Linked DNA regions of Homo sapiens: all the other regions are linked to region 1. The links come from fine-mapping of genetic effects on gene expression. A gene starts in region 1. Each other region holds a variant in brackets. All regions are shown on one strand. Distances are from middle to middle.

What was found. PIP is the estimated chance that this variant, and not a neighbour inherited with it, causes the effect.
Region 2: its variant is the best candidate, but not a certain one, in a credible set for the expression of DHX15 in sun-exposed skin (GTEx, PIP 0.54).
Region 3: its variant is the best candidate, but not a certain one, in a credible set for the expression of DHX15 in whole blood (TOPMed, PIP 0.55).

What each region holds. Positions count from the first base shown.
Region 1 is chr4:24,583,361-24,586,121 of GRCh38, reverse strand. It overlaps DHX15 (DEAH-box helicase 15), which reads left to right and starts at 1,568. Exons shown (of 14, transcript NM_001358.3): 1 at 1,568-1,799. The coding sequence starts at 1,729. RefSeq lists an enhancer at 1,130-1,669 and silencers at 1,850-1,969, 1,980-2,059, 2,260-2,309.
Region 2 is chr4:24,685,351-24,688,111 of GRCh38, reverse strand. No RefSeq gene overlaps it. Among named protein-coding and RNA genes, the nearest start is that of LINC02473, 27 kb to the right of the region's middle. The variant G/A (reference allele first, on the strand shown) is at 1,408.
Region 3 is chr4:24,611,164-24,613,924 of GRCh38, reverse strand. No RefSeq gene overlaps it. Among named protein-coding and RNA genes, the nearest start is that of DHX15, 28 kb to the right of the region's middle. The variant C/T (reference allele first, on the strand shown) is at 1,264.

The DNA of each region.
Region 1 (2,761 bases):
CCGAGGTGGGCAGATCACTTGAGGTCCGGAGTTCAAGACCAGCCTGGCCAGCATGGCGACACCTCGTCTCTACGTCTCTACTAAAAATACCAAAATTAGCCGGGCGCGTAGCCGGGCGTGGTGGCGGGCGCTTATAATCCCAGCTAGGAGGGAGGCTGAGGCAGGAGAATGGCTTAAACCCGGGAGGCGGAGGTTGCAGTGAGCTGAGATTGCACCACTGTCCTCCAGCCTGGGCGACAGAGCAAGACTGTCTCAAAACAAACACACAAACCCCTCATCAGTTGCAATATTTAAGTTGCATTTAATCCTAGCAATTGCAGTCCTGAGATTTGGATAAGAACCAGAGTATGGTCTTCCAGGGCAGCCAAACCAAGCCATTCCATGAACAACAGAGATCACCCTGCTGCAGATGGTCCACAGATCTTTTCTTGTGCATTTCTTCTGGGAACAAATGCAACTGAGGAAGCAGACATATTCTAGGGGGAGAGATCCACAAAAATCCTTAGAGTCATCTTGCCCCACCTCCTTGTTATGGCTTTAGGTACAGCCCTTATGGCTAGGAGATGTAACCTTCCTCAGCCTTTGCGTCTACGTCTACAAAATAACAACTACCTTGCAGGGTGTTATTTAACACTGCGAAAGTGCATTAATAGGCACAGAAAAACAAAAAACAAAAAAGCAAATTGTGCCCTCACTGCGAATTCTCTGTATTCTAGTTAAAAACATCTATAGCTTGGGTGCATGGTGTCCGTGCTGGGCAAGAAAAGGGCAAAATAGATCATGACAAGCCTTAACATTTTCTCACTTCAGTTTCCTCACTGCAATTGATTTTTTTTTTTCTTTCAAGTCGGAGTCTTGTTCTGTCGTCCAGGCTGGAGTGCACTGGTGTGATCTCGTCTCACCGCAACCTCCGCCTCCCAGGTTCAAGCGATTCTCCTGCCTCAGCCTACCGAGTAGCTGGGATTACAGGCGTACGCCACCACGCCCAGCTAATTTTTGTATTTTTAGTAGAGACGGGGTTTCACCGTGTTGGCCAGGCTGGTCTCGAACTCCTGACCTCGTGATCCACCCGCCTCGGTCTCCCAAAGCGTTGGGATTACAGGCGTGAACCATCGCGCGGCCCCTCACTGCAACTGAGGGTAGCGCAGTGGCCGCAAGTTCCAGATCTGGAGTTACTAAATAGCTGGGTTCCAATCCCGGCTCTGCCACTTATTAGCTGTACGATCTTCATTCGTTTCTCAACCTCTCTGGGTCTGAGATTCCCTTAAAGCCGGGGTAATAGAAATGAATAGGATTTCCTAACTAGGACTAGACTTTCTCAATTTCTTGACTCAGAGGGGCAAGGATAGCCTGAAATGGAAAGTGAAGGCCTTCAGGTTCTTCCTAACAGCCGCTCCGAGGAGGGGAAAGCTACAGGAAGAGGGAGGAGACCCAAGAAAGGTCGGACCAATGAGGCAGCGGGCGGGACAGGAGTTCCCGCCTTTGGGCGTCGTGCGCGCGCACCTCGCTCACACGCACACTCGCACGCACGCACGCTGCGGAAGCGCGCGCGCGCGCAGGCCCAGCCCTCGTCGCCGCCGCCATTTTAGCTGTTGGTTCCGGCCGCACCGTGTGGGCTGTAGTAGCGGGAGGGGTGGGGGTCCTCCAGAGTTAAGTGGCTGTCCTCGACTGTGCCCATACAGCAGCCAGCTTTCTTCCTTAATAACTGCCCGTTCGAAGAGTGCGAGGATGTCCAAGCGGCACCGGTTGGACCTAGGGGAGGATTACCCCTCTGGCAAGAAGCGTGCGGGGACCGATGGGTAAGCCAGGCCGGGGGCGCGAGGCGGCAGCTCGGGCTTTGTTGGGGTCCTGGCAGGGAGCGGGCCGGGGCTGGCCTGGCCGAGCGGGTCCTGGAGCCCGAGCCTTTGTTTCTCTCTGGGCTGGGTTCACTAGCGGCGGGTAGGAGAAGCGCGGCGCCCGTTCGGCCCGGCAAGGGCGCGGGGGGTTGCGTGCGACGGGGCCGCTGCCCAGCCCAGTCCGGAGGGTGGAGAGGCCTGCAGTAGCCATGAGGGCGCCTCCTCCCCCAGGCCGAACCGAGCGGGAGTCATTTGCGAGGGCGTCGGGCGGGAGTGAACCGCGGACCTCGTGGCCTCGGTTCCCGAGGAAGGCCTGGAGCCGGAGGAGAGGGTGGGGGAGGGCGCGGTGGGAGTATTCGCTTCCAAGGGCAGCAGGCACTTCCCAGCCAGAGGGGCCGTGGGGAGGGCCTGGGTGGGGGCGCGGCCAGGCACTCCAGACGGGAAAGGCGGAGGGCGGAAAGTGAGAGCAGCGCGTGGATCATAATGTAGGCTGGGATGGGGGTGGCGGGAGTTGAGAGAAGCCAGCAAATAGGGAGTTCTCGGGGGAGGTGGGAGTAGAGGACCTGCCGGGAGAAAGGAAAACGTGGAGTAATATACCTGATGGGCTGGAAGGCTGGTGTTTTGGGGCGACTGAGTTTATAGTTTGGCGGGAGAGAGCGTGCCTTGGTCCATTCAAACACTTCAAAGTAGATACTAGCAAACTTCCGCTCTCTGCCTACGCTCCCGCCATCTCCTGTATTTCCTGCTTTGGTTAAAACTGGTTACTGAACATCGTCCCATGGGGAGGGATTAGAAGGCATTGTTTTTTTTTTTCATCATTTATTTTCTATGCATGTCCCACTTTTCTTCATAAGTAGCTTTTGAAATACAGGGATCATGTTCAAAACGTGTTTTTAGTATTTATGGCGAAACACCGCCCATGTGGA
Region 2 (2,761 bases), 100 kb before region 1:
TTGGTCACACCAGCTGCGCTTCCCAAAGCTCATTCCTTCCCGGCCTGTACCGACAAATTGCATTGATTTGCAAAACAGACAACTCTGCAATTGCCTGAGTACATTTAATCTTTTCAAATTAAGCCAACTTCACATTCGGCATACCATATGGAATTCTTCAGGGTGTTTATAAACACAGTTACTCTTAAGCCCTGGTCCACCCTGCTTAAACTGTAGCAAAAATAGTCCAGAGAGCCAAAAACATCCAGATTGAAGGGATGATCTGCCACCAGGCCAAATCCTTTCAAAGGTGGAAAAGATGTTAGGCATCATCTGGTCTAAAGGCTGTATCCTGGAGGCCATGGGCTGAATTCGGCACACAGATGTGTTGAGTTTGGCTCACGCTGCGTTTCTGAAAAATTTTGTGTCAACATTTAAGAATTGAAAGATTTCACATAAAAATCCAGACTTCCCGCATCTTACCAAAAAAAAAAAAAACTGGAAATGTGACCACACTGAGCGCTCATTCCTACGTAATAACAGGTAAAGATGGGTAGTAGCTTCTCTCTCTGCCAGGGGGCGCCCTTTCCCGCCTGCTTTTCCGTTTTCCCCACTCCCTATCGTCTTAGGCGATCTGCATCGCTCATTTTCAATATTTGCCTGATCCTTGTAGGCATTTGGGTTTGCCATCCTTATCTAAGTCAAGGCACTTATTTTACAGAGGATGAAACTGAATCCCAGAATCCAAAATTGACTTACCTAAGGTCACATAACTGGCAAGTGACAGAGTCAGGATTTGATTCATGGGCGTAGTGGGAACAGCGGGACAGACACCAGGGTCAGGAGGCTAAGGGGGGTAATGAGAGCACAAGGCTGTTCCTAAACCCAGGAATTTCCAGAGGTTCCAGACAAGACCTTGGACTTACTTCCCGGGCCATAGAATTGGGTGTGTGGAGGATGGAGGAAGACAAACCAGTTCCCTAGATTTTGAGAGCCAGAGAGATGACAGATGACTTCAGGGTTAGAGAAGGCAAGATATTTGACCCTTGGCCTTGGGCTCGTTGCAGATGTTCATTTGCTTGTTCATGCATCAAACTTTTATTGTCTGTTGCCTTTCAAGAACTACTTTAGGCTCTGGGGAGACAAAGGATTAAATCTTGATTCTGATACTCAAGGAGATTACAACACAGCAGAGGAAAACAGACAAGTAAGCAGATGAATAAGCAGATGAATAATTTTTTTCTTTTTTTTTTTTGAGACAGGGCCTAGCTCTGTCGCCCAGGCTGGAGTACAGTGGTGAGATTTCAGCTCACTGCAGCCTCGACCTTCCTGGATCAAGCAGTCCTCCTGCCTCAGCCTCCCGAGTAGCTGGGACTGCAGGTGTGCCCCACCACCCCCAGCCAATTCTTGTATTTTTTGTAGAAACGG[G/A]GTCTCACCATGCTGCCCAGGCTGGTCTACCAAGCCTTCTCAAGCCATCTGCCCACCTCCCAAAGTGCTGGGATTACAGGCGTGAGCCACCACGCCTGGCCTGTAAGCAGATGCATTTTTAACACCCCTTCCTTCCCGCTCTCTTCTGGTCAGATCTATAGGCAGAAGGCAGTACCAGGCCGTGGTTAAGGCTGACTTAACAGACTTGGACTCAAATGCTGGTCCTGCCCCTTCCTAGCTTGGGAAAAGCCTCACCCCTCTAAGCCTCAGTTTTTACATCCATTTAAAGTCATCAAATGCCTACCTCGTGGAATTCTTATGAGGAAACATTTGAAAAGCTCCTTGCACAGAGCAAGCATTCAATAATTAGTAGTTACTCTTTTTCTAGAATGCTTTCCTCCCCTCCTGTTACTACTTTTTCTTTTCTTCTTTTCTCTCTTTCATTTTTTTCTCTCTCTGATCTTTTCCAGACATTTGTTTATATTTTGAGATTTCCAAATATTTTCTAGTATCACAGGTAACTGCACTGGGTGATGGCCACGCCTCATAAGGAAAAGTGCCGGTGCTTATTAAAATAAACCCACACGGCCTTGACTCACCAGGGGCGCATTGTTTGCATTACCTTTTTGAAGGACAGAAAATTACTAAAGAGCGAAGCATTAATTATCTGGTCCCTTATTTGCATACAGCATCTCGGTTGAGAGTCCTGCTTTGGGATTCTCACTTCTGGGCCTTGAGCATTCCAGATTCAAAGGTAAAACCAAGGACCAAGAGCCAGAAAATCTTAGATTTTAATCCCAGGACAAATGCTGTTTCCCTTGTTGGCCACAGGCAAATTACCTCCCCCTCCTCACTTTCCCCACCAGCAATGTGGAAATCAATTATTTCCTTGACTCACTCGAGGGCTGAGAGACTTAATTAAGCTTTTGGAAGCTGGTTGTTAGTTAACCTAATTCTCTTTGTAAACTAACCATTCTTTGCTCTCCTGATCACATCTCCCAAACTTTTCATAAATTGGTCCCCCTTTCCTAAAGCTAGAATCCAAGATGACTCTTATTTTTCACTCATCCACTCCTATATATTTTTAAATTATACTGTTATCCCTTTCTCATAAACAGATCCAGGGTAGAAAAATTCTCATAAAGACAGAGCACCTCAGGGATGACCAAGATCCCAGAGGTGCTGGAGAGAGGACTTCCCTTTCCAGGAAGAAAGTGTTATCTTTGACCTTGAAGATGGGGAACCGTCTTGGGCCCTCTGGTCCTTGTGGGAGCCTTAAGGAGAATTGTAGAGTAGGTTAAACTTGCTTATTTTGCAGTGTGATATCTTGGAAGGAGCAAGAGCTTATCAGACA
Region 3 (2,761 bases), 28 kb before region 1:
TAATACTTCCCAGCTATCTGTAACGGCAAATGAAAGAATACAAGAACACCAGGGTTGGTTCTCACTCTACTTCTCTATGTGGATAAAGTCATCTCAGCTACTTCCATTTCTTAAATATATCTTTATGCTGATGACTCCCAAATTTACATTTCCAGCCCTAAGATCAAACACAGCTGAGTCCTTGATATCTACTTCTGGATGTCTAATAAGCATCTCAAATTCAGTATGACTGAAGTAGAGTCATGATTCATTCACTTCAACTCCACTCACCACAATCCTCCCCATCTCAGTAAGTAGTTACATGATCCACCCCGTTGATCAGACATCCTATATTCTTCTCCTTTCCTTCTATTCTCGAACCTTCTGCTGTGACAATACATTGCCATGTCCTATTGTCTCTTCCTCTAAAGTATATCCCAAGTGCAACCACATCTTACCTGTTTAATTGCCACCATCTTAGGTTTAGTCACTGATTTAGTCTACTCAGGCTGCTATAACAAAATATCATAGACTGAATAGCTTGTAAACAACAGAAATTTATTTCTCACGGTTCTGGAGGCTGAAAAGATTAAGATTAAGGCATTGGCAGATTCAATATCTGGTGAGAGCTTGCTTTCCGGTTTATAGATGATGCCTTCTTCCCATGTTGTCACATGGTAGAAAAGGTGATGAATCTCTCTCAGGCTTTTCTATAAGGGCATTCATGTAGCCTCCATCTGCATGACCTAATCACCTCCCGAAGGCCCTACCTCCTAACACTGTCTCGTTGGGGATTAGGTTTCAACAAAGGAATTTTGGGGGCACAGAAACATTCAGACCATAGTTATCACCATCATTTCTCATCTGGATACTTCAATAGTTTCCACTTTTTCCTTCTTTCCCCGTAGTTGACTCTCCAGTGGCAGCTGAAGTGACTTATGGAAAAGTAAAACAGATAATATTGCTCCCTTATTTTAAATCCTCCAATGGATTCCAATTGAAATTAGAATAAATCTGAAATCTTTACAATGATCCATGAAACCCAACACTATCTGGCTCCTGTCTCCCTCACTGACCTCTCAGTTTACTTCGTCTTGTTCACTACCTCCATTCATTACAACCTCTTTCATATATTATTTCATAGGTAGAGATGGGGTTTTGCCATGTTGTCCAGGCTGGTCTTGAACTCCTGACCTTAAGTGATCCTCTCATCTTTGCCTCCTAAAGTGCTGGAATTACAGGAATAAGCCACTGTATCCCACCTATATTTTACACACTCACACT[C/T]CTTTCCCTCCTTTTACTTGCTTTTTTGTCTGCCTGGAGTTTCTTCCCCAGTTTTTTAAAACACCTGATTTCATTTTGTCTTAGCTCAATGCCATCTTCTAAGAGAATCCTTCCCCAACCCACTTTTGATGTAGTCCTTCATACCTCCAGCACCTCCAATCACTTTCTATCATACTGCCCTATATTATTTTTATAGCCCTCATCAATCTATTAAATTACCCTATTTGTTTATTTACTTGCTTATTGTTTGTTACCCTCCACTAGAATTTAAATGCCATGAGCCCAGGAATTTTCTTTATCTTTTTTATCACTATAGCCTTAGCACCTCGAACTGTGCTTAATATATAATAGGTGCAAAGTAAGTATTTCTTGAATGAATGACTGAAAACAAGCCTTTCTTTTTTTTTACTTTTTTATTTTTGAAACAGAGTCTCACTCTGTCACCCAGGTTGGAGTGCAGTGGTGCAATTTCGGCTCACTGCAACCTCTGCCTCCGAGGTTCAAGCGATTCTCCTGCCTCAGCCTGCCAAGTAGCTGGGATTACAGGCATGCTTCACCATGCCTGGCTAAATTTTGTATTTTCAGTAGAGACGGTTTTGCCATGTTGGCCAAGCTGGTCTCAAACTTCTGATCTCAAGTGATCCGCCCGCCCCTGCCTCCCAAATTGCTGGGATTACAGGCGTGAACCACCACGCCCAGCCAAAAACTTAAACCTTTCAAAGTCTCTGACAATTCATCTAGAATTTTTTAGGAGGTTATTCAAATTGAAAACGAAACCAACCCTAGTATTTTAAGTTGGGCTTCTTGGGAAGCAGTCTTGGAAACTGAGATTAGCATGCAGAAAGTTTATTGTGAAAGACTCCTGGGATTCACACCAGTGGAGAAAAAGGCAATAAAGCGGTATTGGGCAGAGGATAAAGTTTGGATGTGACGCAGAGTCTCACTCTGTCACGCCAGGAGTGCAATGGCGTGATCTTGGCTCACCGCAACCTCCACCTCCCAGGTTCAAGCGATTCTTCCGCCTTAGCCTCCTGAGTAGTTGGGATTACAGGCATGCGCCACCACGCCCAGCTAATTTTGTATTTTAAGTAGAGAGAGGGTCTCTTCCATGTTGGTCTGGCTGGTCTCAAACTCCCGACCTCAGGTGATCCGCCCGCCTCAGCCTCCCAAAATCCTGGGATTACAGGCGTGAGCCACCGCACCTGGCCAGTGAGGTTATTTTTAAAAAGCCTAAGCTGACTCCAAAGGGAACTCTGAAGCTGGGATACAGCCCTCTCAATTTGGCCCAGATTATGGTATACATTCCCATAATGATCAGTCATTAGACACAGGCTATCCTGGGGGAGGGAATGTGCCCTAGAGTGAGGTAGCTCTCCAGATGAGGAAATTCTTGGAGAGGCTGACAACTGAGGGCTATCTGCTGACAGCACTCCTTGCAAATGCTGAGGAAATCAGTCCTTCATTCTTGAAGGAGGTCTGGGTGGCACGTTCCAGGATC